2 separate regions of the Homo sapiens genome follow, and region 2 is linked to region 1. The links come from fine-mapping of genetic effects on gene expression. A gene starts in region 1. The other region holds a variant in brackets. All regions are shown on one strand. Distances are from middle to middle. Region 1 holds the start of YARS2 (tyrosyl-tRNA synthetase 2). Region 2 holds the start of LOC124902914 (a long non-coding RNA gene).

Region 1 (8,338 bases):
TAAATTTCTATAAATTTTAATAGAACTTAATGGTCTTTCCATTTTTTTGTGTGGGAAGGGTAAGCATTATTGATTTTACATTTTAATACATTTTAGGGGCATGATGAACCTGGACAGTAAAAGCATCCTTCCTTCGCCCTACCTAATGCAGAGGAGCTTCCTGAAAGAAATTAGTTTGGAATGAAAGGGGAGCAACTGCCTTGCAGGTAAGGATGGGCAGAGTGGGAGGATCTTTAGGACTTTAGATGTAGGTTTCAAGAAAAACAGCAACATGAAAGTCATGTGTGAGAAGATGTAATTATGAGGCAGATTGAGTTATAAATTATTATACAAAGACAACAAAGACATGAAATCAATCTTTAGAAATGATTCTTCCCAAGTAATAGGAGATAGGAATGTCATGGAAATACTTCAACTGGAAGAAAAGCCATGGAAATACTTCAACTGGAAGAAAAGCCATGGCCTTTCTGCAATAACCTACAATTTCTTTTTCTTTTCTTTCTTTTTTTTTTTTTTGAGATGTTGTCTCACTCTGTTGCCCAGGCTGGAGTGCAGTGGTGCTATGTCGGCTCACTGCAACCTCCGCCTCCCAGGTTTAAGTGATTCTCCTGCCTCAGCCTCCTGAGTAGCTGGGATTACAGACGCCCGCCACCACGTCTGGCTAATTTTTGTATTTTTGGTTGAGACGGGAGTTTCACCATGTTTGTCAGGCTGGTCTCAAACTCCTGACCTCAGGTGATCTGCCCGCCTCAGCCTCCCAAAGTGCTGGGATTACAAGCGTGAGCCACCATGCCCGGCCGTAACCGGGCATGGTTACGTAGGTTTACAATTATAGGTTTACAATTTCTATTTCTTGTTCCTATCCACTCCCTTTTGCATCTGATGTCACCAATAATCTTCTCCAAGGAAAAAAAAACAGAAAACACAAATAAGAATTATATTTTATAGTGATTATAATGATCAGAATTCCTCAGACTTCTTTCTGCTGTCATTTTGCTGTGATGTTCGAGCAGCTCATATTTCAGCCCTAATCAGATCTCTGCTGTAATCTGAATATATATTTAATACAATGCTAGAGATAGAGAAATTTTCAAAGTTAAGTAGAGATCAGTTAAAATACCATTACTGTTTACTCTGTGTCTTTTGAATTCTATTATATTTATATTTGTTTACATTTTGAAAACCAAGCCATTTAAAACAGGGATCCCTTCAAAGAGAACATTTATGTGGCATTTTGTTGCAGGAAAAGGTAACTGTAAAACACATGTGCCTCTAATTCAAGGCCAGTTAACCTCAAGTTATTACAGTTGAGATAAATCATATTTTTAAAAATACTTTTTAACCCTTGTTCACTCACTTTTTAAGCCAATAAAAACAGCAAGAATTAACTTGGTCACTTTTTTGTAACCCAAATGCAAACCATGGGTGCAATCCCATAAAATTTTAGCCACGGATATAATTCCAAAGGTTTGAAAGTCCCATCTTCTTTATTGCTCCTGTCTTTGGGACAAAGCCCAATTTCCCCTATAATACCAACACAAATTATAAAAAGAGAGTAATTGATCTCACTGTATTTTCCAAACTTGTTGCTTGTTACTGTCATTAAGCTACTGTCAAGTCTCATCTAGCACCTCCTGTGACACCACCTTCTTTTTTTTTTTTTTTTTTTGAGACGGAGTTTGGCTTTCGTTGCCCAGGCTGGAGTGCAATGGCATGATCTCGGCTCACTGCAACCTCCACCTCGTGGGTGCAAGCAATGCTCCTGCCTCAGCCTCCCAAGTAGCTGGGATTACAGGCATGCGCCACCATGCCCGGCTAATTTTGTATTTTTATTAGAGATGGGGTTTCTCCATGTTGGTCAGGCTGGTCTCAAACTCCCAACCTCAAGTGATCCGCTCACCTCAGCCTCCCAAAGTGCTGGGATTACAGGCGTGAGCCACCGCACCCGGCCCGACACCACCTTCTATATCAGACTTTGCTGCCTCTTCATGAGATGCAACTAAACTTAAGAGACAAAGCAGAGCTCAAATCTATTTTTAAAAGACTTTATAATAAATTGTAATCCCAGGTAGAAATTTTCTATTTCTCATTATCCACAAAATTCTTCTCCATTAAGCACAGGTCATCAAGTAACCCTGACATCAAGTAACCCTGGCATACTGTTGTAACAAGTAGGATTTTCAAATTACTAACACACCTGTAAAAGCCAGAGAGTTGTGTGTCACCAGAAACACATGTGTGCCCTATGTATTAAGGTACTAAATAGAAAGCACCATTTGCTGTGTGTGTGACAGTACTGATTCCATGTTAGAAGAAAGCTTGCTTACTTGAATACAATTATTACTTTGCTTGATTTTGTAGATCATTCACTAAAATCAGCCTCAGAAAAACAGGATCTTGAACAGAGATAAAAGAAAATACCTAGATCAGCCTCTCTGTGAATGGGCTGACCGACCTAATAAGAATAGGCTGATGGTACCTGCAGAAAGCCACAAAATATTGACCAAGAAAGCAATGATTTACTGCCGACCTGAGACTGCACACGTTTCACAAAAATCTTTTTATCATCCTTTCTCTTAATTGCCCTTAAAAACCAGAGGTGGTCTTTGAACGCTAGCTCACTGCATCCCCCAGGGTTGCTGGTCTCTTGAATAAAGCTAACTTTACTTTCACTACAGCTCTTCTCTTGGGTTTTTGGCTTTCAAGTGACAAGTGGCCCAGATGTGAGTTTCCTTACGTGTGCTCAGGAGAATTTCCTGCCATACCTACTGAAATCTGTCCCTGATCAAAGTGGTGGACCATATGACTGCAGATTGGCCTTGCGAAGTAGCTCATGCCTGTAATCCCAACACTTTGGGAGGCAGAGGTGGGAAGCTTGCTTGAGGCCAGGAGTTTAGGACCACCCTGGGCAATACAGTGAGACCCCCGTCTCTACAAAAACAAAAAATAAAAATTAGCCAGGCATGGTAGTCCACACCTGTAGCTCCAGCTACTTGGGAGGCTGAGGCAGGAAGATCGCTGGAGCCTAGGAGTTCAAGGCTGCAGTGAACCATGATCCTGCCACGGCACTCCAGTGTGGACAACAGAGTGACACTTAAAAAAAAAAAAAACACTGAAGATCAACAGGTTATGATTGCAAATTTTAAGATATTTTGAACACACTATTTTCTTAAGCAGTTGGGAGTATGTTTAATAGCCTATTGAATGAGTATCTCAAAATCCTATTGAAGTTACTATTTGGCAATGAGAAACTAATTCACTGATAATTATACATGCAAAGAAACTAATTATTAAAATAAGTTTTCATTTTGTTAGATAACTTTATAACGTTAAAAAATGGAAAAGTCCTGTAGGGAATGATTTGGAACATGGCCCAGATCCCAGTCACAGGACCAAGGCACTCAATCCCCCAGCTGCTGGGAGTGTTGGTTGCTTATTGCTCACAGCTGAGTCCCTTCCTGCACATCTCACTCTCCAAAAGCCTTAACCCAGCGTTTTGCTTCCTCCCCAGAAACATCCCACATTTAATGAGCAGTCAGTAAGAGGGTCTAAAGGTCTGCCCCCTGGCCTCAATTCAGGATGACTCTGAAAGGAAATCCCGGCTCCAGAGCCCTTACTGGATTGCCTGAGGCCTCTATTACAAATTGTTCACAGTTCAACTTCTTTCTCCCTCCGCCCAACCCGGCCTCCCTCACTCCATTATAGGTGTTGTTCTTAAGAGCACACTCCAATTACCCTCCTGCAAACCAGTCTCCCCCCCAACTCAGAGTCCAGGGAATTCTACCTAAGACGATTTTGAAAGCGGTCCTAGAAATCAGGCTCTAACATGGGATTTTGAAGCTAGATCACCTGCCAGCCAGCTGCCAATAAGAACCTCATCCCTGGTCAGTATTCAGAGCACCTGTCACGCTGCACGATGTGATTACTAACTTGAATCCACTCATGCTAAGCTGTGTCCCAACCTAGTTAACTGTATTTAAAATAAATAAACCACAGGACTTGATGCATGTACTTTATTGCACTGAGTTTTTCTTGCTATACCTTGGACAAGACTGCCACCTCCTGGAAGAGCCGATGAATACTGGGGACGAGGTGCAATTAGGGAATCGGTACTATGAAATTGCTTGCGTCTCAGCAGCAACTCCCTATCTCTCCGCGAACTTAAACCAATTCCTAACCTTTCTCAACCTCTGTGAACAGCTTTTTGCATGGAACCAAGACTTCAAAGAACTTGCGCATCACAATCTTTTTACGTGAAAATGTAAATACAAGTTAGCATTTGTGAAGCGTTATGTGCCAAATGCTTTAATTTTTAAGGCTCACAACAGCCTTATGAGGTAGGAACTATCATAAGCAGATCCACACTGCTGATGGAAAAATTAAGTTTAAGGGAACGTAAGGCGACGGCTCTGAGGCGGAATCGCCACTTGGAGTCGGGACTCAACTGCTGAGAGCGCAAGCTCCGTAACTACGTAACCGTCTCGGGCATGCGCAGAAAAACACTGAAGCACCTTCCCTAGGAGCTGTAAGTAGGTGGGTGTGGTGGGAGCCTCTGCAATCCCAGCATTCCCTTCGTGCCGCTACCAAGATGGCGGCGCCCATCTTGCGGTCCTTTTCCTGGGGCCGGTGGTCTGGTACCCTAAATCTCTCAGTATTGTTGCCCTTGGGGCTGCGTAAGGCCCACTCGGGCGCTCAGGGGTTACTGGCAGCGCAGAAGGCTCGAGGTCTGTTCAAGGACTTCTTCCCGGAGACGGGGACGAAAATAGAGCTCCCAGAGCTCTTCGACCGTGGCACGGCGAGTTTTCCCCAAACCATTTACTGTGGCTTCGACCCCACGGCAGACTCGCTTCATGTGGGTCATCTACTTGCGCTGCTGGGCCTGTTTCATTTGCAGCGAGCGGGCCACAACGTGATCGCGCTGGTGGGAGGCGCCACGGCGCGCCTGGGAGACCCGAGCGGCCGTACCAAGGAACGCGAGGCGCTGGAGACAGAGCGCGTGCGAGCCAACGCGCGAGCTCTGCGCCTAGGGCTTGAGGCCCTGGCGGCTAATCACCAGCAGCTTTTCACTGATGGGCGCTCCTGGGGCAGCTTCACTGTGCTGGACAACTCGGCCTGGTACCAGAAGCAGCACCTGGTGGACTTCCTGGCGGCAGTGGGGGGTCACTTCCGCATGGGGACGCTGCTGAGCCGGCAGAGCGTGCAGCTGCGGCTCAAGAGCCCCGAGGGCATGAGCTTGGCCGAGTTCTTTTACCAGGTGCTCCAGGCCTATGACTTCTATTACCTCTTCCAGCGTTATGGATGCAGGGTCCAGCTGGGCGGATCTGATCAACTAGGCAACATCATGTCCGGATATGAGTTCATCAACAAGTAAGTGCCTTTAAACCTTGGGGAAATCCTGGGACCAAATAATTTACACACTAGTAGCCTGTGATTCACTCTTAGGATTGTAGTTGCTGCCCTTCGTTCCAGCTCTTGTTGGTTTTATCCCCATTAAGGCTCTATAATGGCGTTAATAACACTGGCTAATAAGAATTAAAGGGCTGAATTAAGGGTATTAAGAGTAAACGGTGTATTCTAAAAATTAGCTGGGCGTGGTGATGCACGCCTGTAATCCCAGCTATTCGGGAGGCTGAGGCAGGAGAATCTCTTGAACCCGGGAGGCGAAGGTTTCAGTGAGCCGAGATCGCGCCACTGCACTCCAGCCTGGGGCAACAGAGGGAGACTCCGTCTCAAAAAAAAAAAAAAAAAAAAGGGAAACAGACCACTAGTGAAGATTTGGTCGGTCTGTTTTGCTTCGCCTAAGTCGTCCTCTCTAATTAGAGAAACTGCTTTTGTGTGTTTATACCAGAACGTGACTGGGCCTCCTTGAGTAGCTAGCCTCTGCTTTAGCTCTGCACCCTCCATGAAACTAGTGTTAGTCCTTGGTTGGTATCTCAAAAAGTTTTTTCAACTCCAAATAATTGACAAGTAATGCGGGTCTAATAGCATTTTCTTGAGAGAGGTGAAGGATAGGGCTAGCTCATGTGCAACAGAGCAAAGCACATGTTTAAAAGGCGTTTAGAAGATTTCCTTTAGTGTCTCTTCCTGACACCCCTTCACCCAGTTTTCTCCTTCCCACTCAGCCTTTCAAAATCTCTAGTCCATTGTTATGTAGCACTTCCCCTTGGCCTGCCTAGAACCTGCCTGGAACCACTCATGAGGTTCAGAATGAATAGAGTAAGTACTGTAACAATACATAAGAGGAACAAGAATTCAGATTTAGGAGGTCAAGGAAGTTTTCCTGGAGCAAGTAACCAGAAAGAAATCTGGAAGGTGAACAGTAGAACCTACCACCACTTGTGCTTGAGGCACATAATGAAATTGTTCTTTATGCGTAGGTTGACTGGAGAAGATGTATTTGGAATCACCGTTCCTCTAATTACAAGTACAACTGGAGCAAAGCTGGGAAAGTCTGCTGGCAACGCTGTTTGGCTAAACAGAGATAAGACATCTCCATTTGAATTGTATCAATTCTTTGTCAGGCAACCGGACGATTCAGTGGAAAGGTGAGTTCTGAATAATGGGCTGAGAAAAACTGACACCATAAACTCATGATGTAATTTTAGCCATTGAATCTATGTACATTTTATAGTTTTTTTGTTTTTAACGTAGTTTCTGTCTGTACATAAACCATTACATCATAGAAGACTAATTTTTACTGTGTTCTAAAGTTAAACACTTTGTTGGTTAAAGCAGAAAAACAGTGGGTGGCTAGAAAATGTAGAGCCAACTTTTTGATCTGTATCTAGCAAGTTCTTAGGATTTTATCACCTGCATATTCTAGTTTTTTCACTCCTTTCAACTTAACCTTGACTACCCTTATTTTTCCTTTGTCTCTCTTCTCTCACAAATATGACTTTAAAGATCCTCTTAAGAAATGATTTCTCCTTAAATCAAATTGCCTTAAACTCTTGGAAGAATATGAATTAATGAGAAACAAATATACCTGCAACAAAAAGTGAAAAAAATATTTTGATGCTCTGTAACATCAAAGTAATCTAGGAATAATTCTTTAAGACTTAAAAGGTATATGACTTTCCTGCAAAATATTAAAAGATGCTATTGAGCAAAATAAAGACCTACATAAATGGAGAGTTAGACCATATTCATAGTACAAAAATAATATCAGTTCTTTTTTGTATTTTTTGAAACAGAATCTCACTCCCATTGCCCAGGCTAGAGTGTAGTGACGCAGTCTTGGCTCACTGTAGCCTGAAATTCCCAGGCTCAGGTGCACACCACCATGCCCAGCTAATTTTGTATTTTTTTTTTAGTAATGGTGGAGTTTCACCTTGTTCCCCAGGCTGGTCTCAGACTCCTGGACTCAAGCGATAAACCTGCCTCAGACTCCCAAAGTGCTGGGATTACAGCATGAGCCCCCGCACCCGGCCAAGATACCAGTTCTGGATTTGATCTACATTTAGTACAGTGCCAACCATATCTAAACCGGCTTTTTGTGGAACTTGACAAGCTCATTGTAACACTGACATAGAAATAAAAAGGGCTAAGATTGGCCAAGATGTTTTTGAAGAACAGAGTGGAAGATTATCATGCCTTATTACAAAATTTTGGTAATTGTGTTTTTTTCTCTTTAGATTTAGTCCTAGAATGTTTGACGATATAGTCCTGGGGTTTTGATGTATTGAGAATTGATAATCTTTTTTTTTTTTTTTTTTTTTTTTTGAGGCAGTGTCTCACTTTGTTGCCCAGGCTAGAGTGTAGTGGCATGATCTTGGCTCATTGCAACCTCCGCCTCCTGGGTTCAAGTGATTCTCCTGAGTAGCTAGGACTACAGGCATGCGCCACCATGCCCAGCTAATTTTTGTATTTTTGTAGAGGCAGGGTTTCGCCATGTTGGCCAGGCTGGTCTCGAACTCCTGACCTCAAGTGATCCACCTTCCTCAGCCTCCCAAAGTGCTGGGATTACAGGCTTGAGCTACCGCACCCGGCCTAGAGAATTTAGATAATCTTTTCAAAAATTGCATTTTCTATCTGGTTCTGGTGTATAGAAATACAATTACTTTATATATATTACCTTTAAATCTAGCAACTCTGCCAAACTCACTATTTGATTACAGACGTGAGCCACTGCGCCCGGCCCAATACTGTATTTCTTGACCATGGTGATGGTTACATAGATGTTTTATGATTCATTAAGCTATATCTTTGTGAATAATGTACTTTTTTCTGTGTGTTATATATATTTCACCAAAGAAAAAGAGAATACATATAGGATGATATTATAGTCATATATCACTTAACAATAGGGATACATTCTGGGAAGTGTGTTGTTAGGTGA
Region 2 (8,338 bases), 100 kb after region 1:
CTGAGTAGCTAGGACTACCTGCCACCATGCCTGGCTAATTTTGTATCTTTTGTAGAGACAGGATCTCACTATGTTGCCCAGACTGGTCTCAAACTCCTGGGTTCAAGTGATCTGCCCACCTTGGCCTCCCAATGTGCTGGAATTACAAGCGTGAGCCACCACTGATCTTTTTAATGTGTCAAAGTTTTACCTTTTTCAGAATGTCATATACATAGTTGGAATCATATGATATGTAGTTTTGTTTTTGTTTTTAGAGATGGGGTATCACTATGTTGCTCAGACTGGTCTCAAACTCTTAGGCTCAAGTGACATGTCAGAAGAACCAGGAGGCAGCTCGAAGGGTCTCCCACTGGCAAAATCTGGGACAGTTAAACATAAAAATTAACATAAAATTTAAAATAATGGCAACGGATTATACAATCCATTGAATAAAATAGGAACACAGGAATCCAAACATATGAATGAATGAATGAATGAATGAATGAATAAATAAATAAATGATAAGAAAAAATGCTTATAGTAGGATGCCAACAAATAAGTGTAGAAGAAATGATGAAATGAAAACATCAGCAATTGACAAAACAAAGGAATCATTCAGAATCATCAATGGACATTGATGGGTAAAAAATTCTTGACTAGGATATCTACATAATCTCAAAATATGTCTCCATATATATATATTTTTTTCTTTTTGAGATGGAGTCTTGCTGTGTCCCCAGGCTGGAGTGCAATGGCACGATCTTGGCTCAATGCAACCTCCACCTCCTGAGTTCAGGCGATTCTCATGCCTCAGCCTCCCAAGTAGCTGGGACTACAGGCACGTGTCACCACACCCAGCTAATTTTTGTGTTTGTAGTAGAGATGGGGTTTCACCATGTTGGCCAGGTTGGTCTCGAACTCCTGGCCTCAAGTGATCTGCCTGCCTCTGCCTCCGAAAGTGCTTGGATTACAGGCATAAGAGCCACTGCACCCAGCCAATATGTAGCCTTTTTAGTTGACTTCTTTCATTTGGTGAATGCCCTTAAGGTCCCTCTATGTCTTTTCATAGCCTGATAGCTAATTTCTTTTTAGTGCTGCATAATACTCCATTGTCACATTTGTCGATCTGTTCACCTACTGAAGGACGTCTTGGTTGTTTCCAAGTGTTGGCAATTGTGAATAAAGCTGCTCTGTAGCAGGTTTGTGTGTGGACATAAGTTTTCAACTCATTTAGGTAAATACCAAGGAGTGTGCTGCTGGTTCGTATAAGTTTAGTTTTGCAAGAAAAACTGTCAAACTATAAAGTGGCTGTACCCTTTTGCCTTCCCACCTACCATGAGCGAGAGTTCCAGTTGCTCCACATCCTTGTCAGCATTTGTGGTCAGTGTCTCGATGTTGACCATTCTAACAGGTGTGTAGTAATATCTCATTTTAATTTACATTTCTTCCAAAACTTCAATTTATTTGAAATATATTCAGACTTACAGAAAAGTCATAAGTATTTTAAAAGAACTCTAGTTTACCCTTCACCTAGATTCTTTTAACATTTTTATCACATTGCTTCTGCTCTATCATTCTTTCTCCCTCTCTCTCATCTCTGAACCATTTGAGTATAAGTTACAGACACGATGTGTCTTTTTCCTCAAATACTTCAGTGTATATTTTCAAGGACATGGATATTTTCTTACATAACCACAGTGCAATGGTCAAAACAGAAAAATTAGCAGCTACAGTATGATGATCTAATCTACAGATGTTATTCATTTAACGGTTATCTCAATAATATCCTTTATAGCCAAAAAAAAGAAAGAATAAATTGTGGCCTAAGTCCAGCGCACATTGCATTTACTTATCATGTGTTTCTATCCTTTAACCTGGAACAGTTCTTTAGTCTGTCTTTGTCTTTCATGAGCTTAACTTTTTTTTTTTTTTTGAGACGGAGTCTCACTCTGTCACCCAGGCTGGAGTGCAATGGCATGATCTTGGCTCACTGCAACCTCCGCTTCCCAAGTGATTTTCATGCCTCAGCTCCCGAGTAGTTGGGACTACAGGTGCCCGCCACCAAGCCCAGCTAATTTTTGTATTTTTAGAGGAGATGGGCTTTCACCATATTGGCCAGGCTGGTCTCGAACTCCTGACCTTGTGATCCACCCGTCTTGGCCTCTCAAAGTGCTGGGATTACAGGCGTGAGCCACTGCGCCCAGCTGAATTTAACATTTTTGAAGAATACAGGCCAGGTAATTTTTTTTTTTTTTTTTTTTGAGACAGAGTCTCGCTCTGTCGCCCAGGCTGGAGTGCAGTGGTGCAATCTTGGCTCATTGCCAGCTCTGCCTCCCAGGTTCATGTCATTCTGCCTCAGCTTCCCGAGTAGCTGGGACTACAGGCGCCCGCCACCAAGCCCGGCTAATTTTTTGTATTTTTAGTAGAAACAGGGTTTCACCGTGTTAGCCAGGATAATCTTGATCTCCTGACCTCCTGATCCGCCTGCCTCGGCCTTCCGAAGTACTGGGATTACAGGTGTAAGCCACCGTGCCCTGCCAAATATAGGCCAGGTATTCTATAGAATGTTCCTGAGTTTGGGTTTGTCTGTTATTTCCTCATGATTAGATTACACTTTTAAAAATGTATTTAGTTTGTCATGTAACCCCAAATACTCAGATAGATTTCACTTTTAGCAGGAAAACAACAGATGTGATGTGTCCTCTCAGTGCTTCATATCAAGAGATACATGAGACCAGTTTGTCCTCACTGGTAATGTTAACTTGGTTAAGATGCTGTCCACCAAGTTTTTCTACTGCAAAGTTACTATTTTTATTTTTGTAATTAATAAGAATTTTATGGGCCAGGCGCGGTGGCTCAGCATGTAATCCCAGCACTTTGGGAGGCTGAGGTGGGCGGATCACTTGAGGCCAGGAGTTCCAGAACAATCTGGCCAAGATGGTGAAACCATGTCCCTACTAAAAACACAAAAATTAGCTGGACGTGGTGGCTCACGCCTGTAGTCCCAACTACTTGGGAGGCTGAGGCACAAGAATTGCTTGAACTCCGGAGGTGGAGGTGGCAGTGAGCTGAGATCCTGCCACTGCACTCCAGCCTGGGGACAGAGCAAGACTCCATCTCAAAACAAAACAAAAAAGCAATTTTATGGAGACATATTTTGAGATTATGTAGTTATCCTGGTCAAGAATTTTTTACCCATCAATGTCCACTGAGGATTCTGAATGATTCCTTTGTTTTGTCAATTGCTAATGTTTTCATTTTATCATTTCTTCTACACTTACTTGTTGACATCCTACTATAAGCACTTTTTCTTATCATTTATTTATTCATTCTTTCATATGTTTGGATTCCTGTGTTCCTCCTTTATTCAATGGATTTTATAATCCATTGCCATCATTTTAAATTTTTTTTGTTAATTTTTATGTTTAACTGTCCCAGATTTTGCCAGTGGGAGACCCTTCAAGCTGCCTCCTAGTTCTTCTGACATGTCCCCATCATTCTTTGGGCCCTTTCTTACTTTCTGGTACAATATAATATTCCAGGCTTATTGTGAATTTTTCCTGCCCAAGCCCTTGAATCAACCATTTCTTCAAGGAATGCTGGTTCTTTTTAGTGGAAAATGGTGTTTAGAAAACAAAATACAAAAACAAAATTGGGGTATTACTTCTAGACCCTCACAGCAGACAGCTAGAAAATATGT[G/A]TATATGTACATTTATATAACCCCCCACATAGGTATTATATGTACTATATCTATATTTATACTTAGCTAAACCATTAATACCTATTTTCCATTCCAATAACATAGGATTTATTATGTCCCCCCTTCCACATCTATATCTGCTTTCTCTGACAGTAGGAAACTTGGCTCCCATTATCCTCAGCATATTTATTTACTGGATTAGTCAGGGTTCTCTAGAGGGACAGAGCTAATAGGATAGATGTATATATGAAGGGGAGTTTATTAAGGAGTATTGATGCACACGATCACAAGGTGAGGTCCCACAATAGGCCGTCTGCAAGCTGAGGGGTAAGGAAGCCAGTCTGAGTCCCAAAACCTCAGAAGTAGGGGAGCCGACAGCGCAGCCTTCAGTCTGTGGCCAAAGGCCTGAGAACCCCTGGCAAACCAATGGTGTAGTCCAAGAGTCCAAAAGCTGAAAAACTTGGAGTCTGTTGTTCAAGGGCAGGACGCATCTAGCACGGGAGAAAGACAAAGGCCAGAAGACTCAGCAAGTCTGCTCTTCCATCTTCTGCCTGGTTTATTCTAGCTGCGCTGGCAGCTGATTAGGCAGTGCCCACCCAGATTGAGGGTGGGTCTGCCTCTCCCAGTCCACCGACTCAAATGTTACTCTCCTTTCGCAGCACCCTCACGGACACACCCAGGAACAATACTTTGCATCCTTCAATCCAATCAAGTTGACACTCAATATGAACTATCACATTCACTGAGTTCTAGAACTCAGCAAAACAAATAAACACATGTTAGAACTACTAAGCTCTACCACTGGGAAAAACAAGCCAGGGATCTAGAGTTCAATATTTGTTTGCACTCTGAGTCCACATACTGTATGCAAAAGTTTGAGTTAGTTCTTTTTTCTCTTCAGTGTGGTTATGTTTTTCATTTGGTACCATTTGATATATGGATATGTTCACTTGTTTATATTTGTACTCCATGGGGGAGGGGAGTGTTCACCATTAGGGGTGTGTGTGTGTGTGTGTGTCTGTTTATAAAACACTGAGATGGTTCAAAAGTCAAAACTCTGCAAAAAGGTATACTCACGAAAGCATCATGACTTTTTTTAGCAAATAATTTTTCATTTCTTTCTTTCTTTCTTTCTTTCTTTTTTTTTTTTTTGAGACAGGGTTTCACTCTGTCACCCAGGCTGGAATACAATGGTGCAATCATAGCTCACTGCGACCTCAAACCCCTGGGCTCAAGCGATCCTCCTGCCTCAGCCTTCTCAGTAGCTGGGACTACAGGCTCATGCCACCATGCCCACCTAATTATTACTACTTTTTTTAAAGATAGGAGGGTCCTCACTATCTTGCCCAGTCTGGTCTCTAACTCCTGGCCTCAAGTGATTCTCCCACCTTGTCCTCTCAAAGTGGCAAATAATTCTTTTTTATTGAGAGTTCTTCCTCCTATTTTTTTTATAACTGTGGGCCTGGATCCTTTGGTTCATTTACCCTGTATTCATTCTGTGCCTTCCTGTTCTCCAGTCTTCAAGCACATACATAGACATACACACAAATTCAGCAGATAGTAAAAAAAACCACAAGATGATCTTTCAGATGACATACATTTTTCCCACTTTTAAACATAACATGATTCTATGTGGAAACAATTTTTTAAGTTAATTTTTTGCACCGTAATTATTTTTGTTTGGTGTATGATAATGACATATTTAAGTGATCATCTAAAAATAGCAATTTTTGTGAAAATGCCACAGTGGGCTATGAGGCCCTAATCTTATTCTATAAAAGCAGAGCATTTCCTTTACTAAGAGAGTAAGCAAACTGGTTTTCTGTTTTTACTTACCTGCAGGACAAAACAGTGCATGAATCACTTCCTCTGTAAGAAAGTGATGGTAGCCTAGGCGCTCATTATCCAAACCATTTGCCAGGTCCACTCTGCCAGCCCCATTTCCTCAGGATGTCTGTCCTTCAGCACTTTCGGCTCCTTCTGGGACAGTCATCAGCTGCCTCTAATCTCCTCACAGTCCAGGTGCTGTGATAATGGTGGTGGTAGTGGGCTGAGACTGTATGTCTCTCTCTCTCTATATATATATTTTTTCTTGTAAAATTTTTTTATTTTTTATTTTTTAAATTATTATTATTATTATTGAGATGGAGTCTCGCTCTGTCACCCAGGCTGGAGTGCAGTGGCGTGATCGCGGCTCACTGCAAGCTGCACCTTCCAGGTTCACGCCATTCTCCTGCCTCAGCCTCCTGAGTAGCTGGGACTACAGGCACCCGCCACCACACCCAGCTAATTTTTTTGTATTTTTAGTAGAGACAGGGTTTCACCGTGTTAGCCAGGATGGTCTTGATCTCCTGACCTCGTGATCCGCCTGCCTCGGCCTCCCAAAGTGCTGGGATTACAGGCGTGAGCCACCACGCCCAGCCTAATTTTATTTTTTTTAAGCTGCAGGTCTTGCTATGTTGCCCAAGCTGGTCTCGAACTCTGGGTTCAAGTGATCTTCCTGTCTCAGCCTCCCAGGTGAATTACAGGCATGATGCCTAGCTCTGAGACTGATTTTTTAAAAACAAGAATCCACTGTGCCAAGGTTGACTAAGATTTTCACCATTATATTTTGAAGTCCTGTTTTTTCTCTTTTTCCTTTTTTTTTTTCTTTTCTTTTTGACACAGGGTCTTGCTCTGTCACTCAGGCTGGAGTCGGGGAGGATTGCTTGAGCCTGGGAAGCAGAGGTTGCAGTGAGCTGTGATCATGCCACTGATTCTAGCCTCAGCGACAAAGCAAGGCTCTGTCTCAAAAATAAATAAGTAAAAATAAAATTGGGGCCAGGAGCGGTGGCTCACACCTGTAATCCCAGCACTTTAGGAGGCCGAGGCAGGTGGATCACGAGGTCAAGAGATCGAGACCATTCTGGCCAACATGGTGAAACCCCGTTTCTACTAAAAATACCAAAATTAGCTGGGCTTGGTGGCATGTGCCTGTGGTCCTAGCTACTCAGGAGGCTGAGTCAGGAGAATCGCTTGAACCTGGGAGACAGAGGTTGCAGTGAGCCAAGATCACACTACTGTACTCCACCCTGACGACAGAGCGAGACTCCGTCTCAAAAAATAAATAAAATAAAGTTCGGAGTTGACAGCATGAAAGTATGAAAGTATGTGTGAATACTAGTGGAATGAGTGCAGATAAAGGAGATAAGTCACAACATACTTAGGCCTGAGACACCCCTGAAAGGTGTGAAAAACAGCAAAGAAGACCAAGAAAGGGTTCAAGAGAAGAACATCAGGGGTTTGGGGCTGGGCGCTATGGCTCACACCTGTAATCCCAGCACTTTGGGAGGCTGAGATGGGAGGATCGCTTGAGTCCAGGAGTTCAAGACCAGTCTGGTCTGCATGGAGAGACCTCCCCATCCCTAAAGTAAATACATAAATAGAAAAAAAATCCAAGGGTTTGGGGTTCTACAAGCCAAGGGAAGAAAGTGAATTAAGGAGAGCATGACCAAGTATGTCAAATGCTACTAAGATGAGGACTGAGAACTTGACTATTGAATTTAGCAGCATACAAGTTATTGGTAACCTTGATATAAGAGCAGTTTCAGTGAAATGGTGGGTGCAAAATGCTGACTGGAATCCGTTCAGTAAAGAACGGGAAGAGAGGAATTGGAGACAGTAAGTATAGAAAACTCTTTCAAGGAGTGTTGCTGCTAATGGGAGGAAAAGTGGAGTGAAGAGGCTTACGTTGGGAAGAATTATAGCAGGTTTTCGCTAATAAGATTCAAGAAGAAATCTGACATTACATGAGAAAGGGAGAATGGCAGGCGAATGGGAAATTGGATACTGTGCACAGGTGAGGGACCCAATTAGGACAGGACATGGATAGGCAGGGAGAGAGAGTATATGGTCTCAAGAGGTAATAGGTGGCTTAGATATGGTTGTGGGAGGCTGTCCCCTGCTGATTGCTTGTATTTTACTAAAGTGGGAAGGAAGGTCATCTATTGGGATGGAGGATTGGGGATACAGTGGAGGTCTCAGGAGGAAGTAGTGATGACCTAGTAATAAATTTTAGGTGAAACCAATCTGCTTTGTTCAGCCACATGGGTACAAGTATGAAAACAGAACTGAGTAAACTGGGGATTTGGTTTTGCCAAGCGAGACAAAGCTAGACGTGGCGAAGGAAGTGAGTGAATGTGAGGGAGTGATCAGTGACTGAACATCGGATTTAAAATGGGTAAGGGTAGAAGAGAGGACATCAAGAGCTGAGGGACAAATTATTAGCTTTTTAAAATCTGTTTTCTTTCTTTTTTTTGGAGAGGGGGAGGTAGGGACAGAGTTTCACCCTTGTTGCCCAGGCTGGAGTGCGATGGCACTATCTCAGCTCACTGCAACCTCCACCTCCCGGGTTCAAACAATTCTCCTGCCTCAGCCTCCCAAATAGTTGGGATTACAGGCGTGCGCAACCATGCCCAGCTAATTTTGTATTTTTAGTAGAGACAGGGTTTCACCATGTTGGTCGGGCTGTTTTTGAACTCCTGACCTCAAGTGATCCACCTACCTCCGACTCCCAAAGTGCTGGGATTACAGGCATGAGCCACCACGCCTGGCCAAATCTGTTTTCTTATCTGAATCTTAGAATGTTATTGTGAGGCTTTTATGTGATAATGTAAATAC

What was found.
Region 2: its variant is fine-mapped to the expression of YARS2 in visceral fat (GTEx, PIP above 0.99).

Annotation. Positions count from the first base shown.
Region 1 is chr12:32,752,125-32,760,462 of GRCh38, reverse strand. YARS2 (tyrosyl-tRNA synthetase 2) reads left to right here and starts at 4,566. Exons shown (of 5, transcript NM_001040436.3): 1 at 4,566-5,367; 2 at 6,378-6,545. The coding sequence starts at 4,589. RefSeq lists enhancers at 3,707-4,346, 4,551-4,780, 4,801-4,900, 4,347-4,986, 5,271-5,430 and 1 more.
Region 2 is chr12:32,647,942-32,656,279 of GRCh38, reverse strand. It overlaps LOC124902914 (a long non-coding RNA gene), which reads right to left and starts at 5,782. Exons shown (of 2, transcript XR_007063270.1): 1 at 5,516-5,782; 2 at 3,921-4,170. The variant G/A (reference allele first, on the strand shown) is at 3,680.